Linked DNA regions of Homo sapiens. The protein of the gene in region 1 interacts with the protein of each later gene in a biochemical or structural test. Each region holds a gene or a part of one and is shown in the gene's direction. Other genes may lie near its edges.

What was found. Proteins that work in one complex are often made in the same cells at the same time.
Region 2: of the proteins of CDC7 (region 1) and MCM4, one has a biochemical effect on the other in vitro, tested with the Homo sapiens proteins (2 studies listed by BioGRID).

What each region holds. Positions count from the first base shown.
Region 1 is NC_000001.11:91,517,851-91,521,350, forward strand, and holds part of CDC7 (cell division cycle 7-related protein kinase), read left to right. Parts: intron 1-682; exon of another isoform or gene 683-825; intron 826-2,279; coding exon 2,280-2,429; intron 2,430-3,500. UniProt on the Homo sapiens protein: Kinase involved in initiation of DNA replication. Phosphorylates critical substrates that regulate the G1/S phase transition and initiation of DNA replication, such as MCM proteins and CLASPIN.
Region 2 is NC_000008.11:47,970,941-47,974,440, forward strand, and holds part of MCM4 (DNA replication licensing factor MCM4), read left to right. Parts: intron 1-400; coding exon 401-528; intron 529-1,916; coding exon 1,917-2,124; intron 2,125-3,500. UniProt on the Homo sapiens protein: Acts as a component of the MCM2-7 complex (MCM complex) which is the replicative helicase essential for 'once per cell cycle' DNA replication initiation and elongation in eukaryotic cells.

The sequences.
Region 1 (3,500 bases):
ACTTTGGGAGGCCAAGGCAGGCAGATCACTAGGTCAGGAGTTCGAGATCAGCCTGGCCAATATGGCGAAATCCCGTCTCTACTAAAAAGTACAAAAAATTAGCAGGGCATGGTGGCACACACCTGTAGTTCCAGCTACTGGGGAGGCTGAGGCAGGAGAATTGAACCCGGGAGGCAGAGGTTACAGTGAGCCAAGATCGCACCATTGCACTCCAGCCTGAGCAACAGAGTGAGACTCAGTCTCAAAAAAAAAAAAAAAAAAAAAAAGGTGATACAGTAGCCCAAGGAACAGAGAGCAGATAACCTGGTGATACTAGGAAGTCAACAATTAAGAGAGATGTCAACTTTAAGAAAAAAAAAAAAGAGCTTTTTAACATCAAGTTGAGCTAGTCGTAATCTTTAACTACCAGAATTCAGAAGATTAAAGTTTCTATAGTGGGAATGTAAATTAGTACAACCACTATGGAAAACAATTTGGACGTTCCTCAAAAAACTAAAAATAGAGCTACTACATGATCCAACAATCCCACTGCTGGGTATATACCCAAAAGAAAGGAAATCAATGTACCGAAGAGGTATCTGCACTCCCATGTTTGTTGAAGCACTATTCATAATAGCCAAAATTTGAAAGCGACCTAAGTGTCCGTCAACAGATGAATGGATAAAGAAAATGTGGTACTTACACACAATGGAAGTACTATTCAGCCACGAAAAAGAAGATCTTGTCATTTGCAACAACATGGATGGAACTGGAGATCATTATGTCAGGTGAAATAAGCCAGGCACCGAAAGACAAGAGTTGCATGTTCTCACTAATTTGTGGGATCTAAAAATTAAAACAATTGAACCCATAGAGAGCAGAAAGATGGTTACCAGAGGCTGAGAAGGGTGGTGGGAGGGTGTGGGGGATGTGGGGACAGCTGATGGGTACAAAAAATAGTTATAAAGAATGAATTATCCAGCACTTTGGGAGGCCAAGGCAGGTGGATTGCTTGAGCTCAGGCACTCGAGACCAGCTTGGGCAACATGGTAGAACCCTATTTCTACCAAAAATACAAAAAAGTAGCTGGATGTGGTAGTGTGCATCTGTGGTCCCAGCTACTCAGGAGGCTGAGGTGGGAGGATCACTTGAGCCTGGGAGGCGGAGGTTGCAGTGAGCCGAGATCACACTACCACACTCTAGCCTGGGTAACAGAGCCAGACCCCATCTCGAAAAAAAAAAAAAAAGAATGAATTAAGACCTAGTATTTGATAGCACAGCAGGGGGATTATAGTCAGTAATTTAATTGTGCAGTTTAAAATAACTAAAAGAGTACTTTGAGGGGCTGAGGCAGGCAGATCACTTGAGCCCAGGAGCTTGAGACCAGCCTGGCCAATGTGGCAAAACCTCGTCTCTACTAAAAATACAAAAAAAAAAAAAAAAAAAAAAAAAAGAGCTGGGCATGGTGACATGCCTGTAATCCCAGCTACTCAAGAGGCTGAAGCATGAGAATTGCTTGAACCTGGGAGGCAGAGATTGCAGTGAGCTGAGACTGTGCCACTGCACTCTAGTCTGGGCCACAGAGGGAGACCTTGTCTCAAAAAGAAAAAAAGAAAAGAATATAATTGGATTGTTCGTAACACAAAGGATAAATGCTTGAGGGAATGGATACCCTGTTTTCCAGGATGTGATTATTACACACTGCATGCCTGTATCAAAACATCTTATATACCCCATCAATATATACACCTACTGTGTACTCAGAAAAATTAAAGTCTTCACAGTCACAAAAAAATAAAAAAGTAATTTTTTAAAAGTTTCTATAGCAGTAGTTGGTGCTAGTGTCAGCTGAAGAAGAGCTTCTAATGTTCATTACTTTTCACTAAAATGAAAGCACTTTGACCAGTATGGTATGTAATTCTCAAGGATCATTCAGATTTTTTCCCACATAGCTATTTTTGGATTCCTTTTGATCCTATAAAATGTGCGTTTACTTAGTGTTTCCTAGTGATTAAATATCCTTTTAAATTTACCAACACGTTGCTCAAGAAAGAAAACATATTTTGCAGTGAGGATTCTCAGTCCTGGTTGTACATTAAAATCACCTGAGGAACTTTTTTAAAACATTGATGCCTGAGCCCTACTTCAGAACTGTTCAATCAAAATCTTTGGGTCTGGGCATCTGAAATTTTTAAGGCTCCCAAGGTGATTCTAATGCATAATAAATGTTGAGGACTATTGATTTAGATGATAAAATTATAGATTTGAAATTTATTTTTAAAATTTGTCTTCTGTTGCAGCAATTGACATGTGGTCTGCAGGTGTCATATTTCTTTCTTTGCTTAGTGGACGATATCCATTTTATAAAGCAAGTGATGATTTAACTGCTTTGGCCCAAATTATGACAATTAGGGGATCCAGAGAAACTATCCAAGCTGCTAAAACTTTTGGTAAGCAGTTTTGTATTATAGAACCAAACAAAATGCCTTTGATTATCTCCTACAAATCACTTAATAAATTATTGTGAAATTTTCTTTACAAATAAACATTCAGTCTTGATAAAGTTCTCTAATATTAAGTAGAAAATTCTTCAGTTGCTTGAAAATAAATTTATCACCTCTCTATACATATAATCATTTAATCTTATTAAGCACAAAGTAATACACTGTTGCAGTATTTAAAGTTTACCTTTATAATTTTATAAGAATAAGGAGTAAAATCTTAACTCCTTTTAGTTATGGTTTGACTTTTATTACATAAATTTACCTTTTATTAAAGGCATGTTTTACTTTGTAATATGTTTTACTTTTTTATTGTCTTTTAAACATCAGATGCACTATGTCTTGGTACTTAGAGTGTCCTTGCCTTAAATGATCTTAGGCTATACTAACAAGTAAACAGTTAATTATTAATACAGTGTAATAAGGACTAGGGAAGAGAATGGAAATGTGTGTTGTCAGGTTGTGTAGGTTTACGGTAGCAGAGAAGCAGAATGCATAGAAGGCCTTAACTGATGGGATATTATTGTAAGCATATATTGGACTTGGATGTCATCTCCTTAGCCACGCAAGTTCTTCAAGACTGGGATGTGCAGTGTACTTCATAGGGCACATAAGAATTATCTCAGCCTTGCTCTGGCCAACAATCTGAACTCAAGTGCCCATTTAATGTTTATTTTCCACGCTCAGTTATAGTTAATACTTTCCAAGGAATAAGTGGGATTGACTCAGCTTACTACCATACAATACAGAACACCTCAGGAGACAAAGTTTCAGCCAGCCTACCTCAAGAGTAGCTGGGCTGTCTTGTGCTCAACCCCAGGATCAGTGGGTCTTAACCAGAGTTGCATGTCAGAATTATCTGAGAATCTTTAAGAAATACATATGCCTGCCCACTCAGCCTATTCTTGGAAAATATGATTCAGAAAAACAAGATACTTAGGAAGGCTCCAGCCTTGTTAGTTTGAAAAAGCAAGTGATTCTGACTAAGAAACTATGGGTGTTTAAGAACCACTGCAAAAA
Region 2 (3,500 bases), on another chromosome or scaffold:
GTCTGTGGAACTGTGCTGTGCTACCTTGGTTCTAACTTGGGGAGATTGATAAGTGCTTTCCACATCATATTTCAGCTAAATCTCAACATGTCTTCTACAGGGTGTCACGTTTTGTCTTTATTGCTGTACTAGCCTTGAATTTGTCCTAAAGCTCTTGCAAGGTGCCTGCTTCCTGAGAAAGATGTGGTTATAGCACACATTCATCTAAACTCAGTCCTTGGCATGAATCTGAGGACAGGGCTTATCCAGGTGAACTGCTGAAGTCAGTAAAGGCAACATGGCTCAGGCAATAGAAACTCAGTGGAGGGAATATGGGTTTAGTAGGTGGCCGGGCGAAGACGGTGCTTGTTAATTGCCAGCGTCAGGGAGAGGCTTCTAACTGCACTCTTTGCTCTGATAGGCTGGGATCATCTGTCAGCTCAATGCGCGCACCTCTGTCCTGGCAGCAGCAAATCCCATTGAGTCTCAGTGGAATCCTAAAAAAACAACCATTGAAAACATCCAGCTGCCTCATACTTTATTATCAAGGTATTAAAACAGATTTTTATTTTGTTCATTTGTAGAATATTCAGGGTGAGATTGAAAAGGAGCTACTAAGATTTCAGCAACTGCTAATGGAAACTCTTCACTCTTATCAAGATGTTTCAAATTTGGTTGGTCAAGAGTTTTCACGACAAGGATGATGTGTGTTCTCATTTGTTTTTTAAGCAGTTGGGATGTTTACCTCCCACGCCGTTTACACATGGCTGTCACTCACTACTCTTAGTCCTAAAGCCACTGCTGAGAGTCAACAGAGAACAATTCCGTACAGTAGATGAGGCTCTGAAAAGTTAGATTTATTAAAGTGCAATCACATAATCTTCACTCTTGGCCCCACTACAAATATTGGACATTTTTCATAAATGGATTTTAGGTTTTAATTACTTGCTTTTTTTTCTTTTTTTTTGACAGAAGTTTTTTTTCCCAAAAAAACAGTTGAATGTGTTTTCATTCAAATCTTTCCATTGTCAGCCAGGTACAGTGACTCACACCTGTAATTCCAGCACTTTGGGAGGCTGAGGTGGGTGGATCGCCTGAGCTCAGGAGTTTGAGGCCACCCTGGGCAACTTGATGAAACCCCATCTCTACTAAAATACAAAAAATTAGCCCGGCGTGGCGGCGCATGCCTGTAATCCCAGCTACTCGGGAGGCTGAGGAGGCACAAGAATTGCTTGAGCCTGGGGGAGTGGAGATTGCAGTGAGCTGAGATCATACCACTTCACTCTAGCTTGGGCTACAGAGTGAGACTCTGTCTCAAAAAAAAAAAAAAAAAAAAAACTTTCCATCGTCAAAATTATAGTAACGTTTCCCTAAGGGAAGACTTCCTTTGACTCAGCTGATTGGTCCCCAGCCGTTCCCTGGGCCGACCTAAGGACTAGGGACAGCACAGGGTGAGTGGGGTGAGTGGATGGACACGAAGGCCCTTTCCACACCAGGCAAAGATGCTTCTCCCTGATGGCGCTCACAGGGTGCACATTGACTGCACATCTGTGGTGCTCAAGCAGTCTTTAGTACGTCGTTTGTAGGTGTATTGGTGTCTCAACTAGGAAAACAGTTTTTTTGTTGTTGTTTTGGGTTTTTTTGTTTGTTTTTTTGAGACAGAGTCTCCCTCTGTCGGCCAGGCTGGAGTGCAGTGACGCGAACTTGGCTCACCGCAACCTTCGCCTTCCAGGTTCAAGCGATTCTCCTGCTTCAGCCTCCCAAGTAGCTGGGATTACAGGCAGGCACCACCACTCCTGGCTAATTGTTGCATTTTTAGTAGAGACAAGGTTTCACCGTGTTGGCCAGGCTGGTCTCAAACTACCAACCTCAGGTGATCCACCTGCCTCGGCCTCACAAGGTGCTGGAAAAACAGTATTTTTACTTTGTTTTCTTAGGTTTGATTTGATCTTCCTCTTGCTGGACCCTCAGGACGAAGCCTATGACAGGCGTCTGGCTCACCACCTGGTCGCACTGTACTACCAGAGCGAGGAGCAGGCAGAGGAGGAGCTCCTGGACATGGCGGTGCTAAAGGACTACATTGCCTACGCGCACAGCACCATCATGCCGCGGCTAAGTGAGGAAGCCAGCCAGGCTCTCATCGAGGTAACCCTGCTGAAAAAAGGCTTACTGTGCCTGTAGCCCACAGCATTAATGTAACTGACCAATCATCTCCTTTAAAATATTAATTATTTTGTTACGAATAACATACTGTTCTCTTCCTTGTTTTGAGACAGAGCCTGGCTCTCTTGCCCAGGCTGGAGTGCAGTGGCTTGATCTCGGCTTACTGCAGCCTGTGGCCTGTGCTTCTGGGTTCAAGCGATTCTCCTGCTTCAGCCTCCCTATTAGCTGGGATTACAGGTGCCCACAACCACTCCGGCTAATTTTTGTATTTTTAGTAGAGACAGAGTTTCACCGTGTTGGCCAGGCTGGTCTTGAAATCCTGACCTCAAGTGATGCGCCAGCCTCTGCCTCCCAAAGTGTTAGGATTGCAGGCGCAAGCCACCATGCTGGGCCTAAGAATAATAAACTTTTCTTTTTTTTTTTTTTGTGAGACGGAGTCTCGCTGTGTCCCCCAGGCTGGACTGCAGTGGCGCGATCTCGGCTCACTGCAAGCTCCACCTCCCGGATTCACGCCATTCTCCTGCCTCAGCCTCCTGAGTAGCTGGGATTACAGGCACCCACCACCACGCCTGGCTAATTTTTTGTATTTTTAGTAGAGACGGGGTTTCACTGTGTTAGGATGGTCTCGATCTCCTGACCTCGTGATCCGCCTGCCTCGGCCTCCCAAAGTGCTGGGATTACAGGCGTGAGCCACCGCGCCTAGCAATATACTATTTTTTATAACTGTTTATTACTTCCTCCCATATTGCAAAATTGATCTTTCCAAATGTTGCAAAAGGGGGAAATAGTTCATTTATGTAGGTAGTACACACACTTTATATGTTTAAGTACTTACAAGCATAGTGAATTTAAGATCAAAGACCTGGTTTCAAATAGAGGCAACACTACACAGTAATTTGGAAACTGAAAAAGTCATCCAGTTTCTGTAAGCTTCCTTTTGCTTGTAAAAAACAGAATGAGCTGTCTTTTAGGTTCACTTTTCAGCATCCTGGTACATGAGCTGAAGTGCATGATGGCACATTTAGGTTATTCAAGCATTGTGATATTAAGAAGGTTCCTGGTGCTTTGATGAGCTTTGCATCCTAACTGAGCTCCTAAAAATTCTAAGATGAAAGTTACAGACATTATGTAATTTTTTTGTGTGTCATAGTCTTGGGGGTTGTTAATGAAGAAATAAGACTGTGTCATCTGTATGTGAAATTGATACAACTTACCTTTGCAGCATTCTCCCAGCAATCCTTATGAGCCCCATTGTGCCCCATGTGAGCACTTTTCCCAGACAGGCCTGATTCTCCCTATGAGTGCTCACAGCCTTCTCCTCTCCCCACATGCCACATTCCTTCCCTCTGCCACGCCAT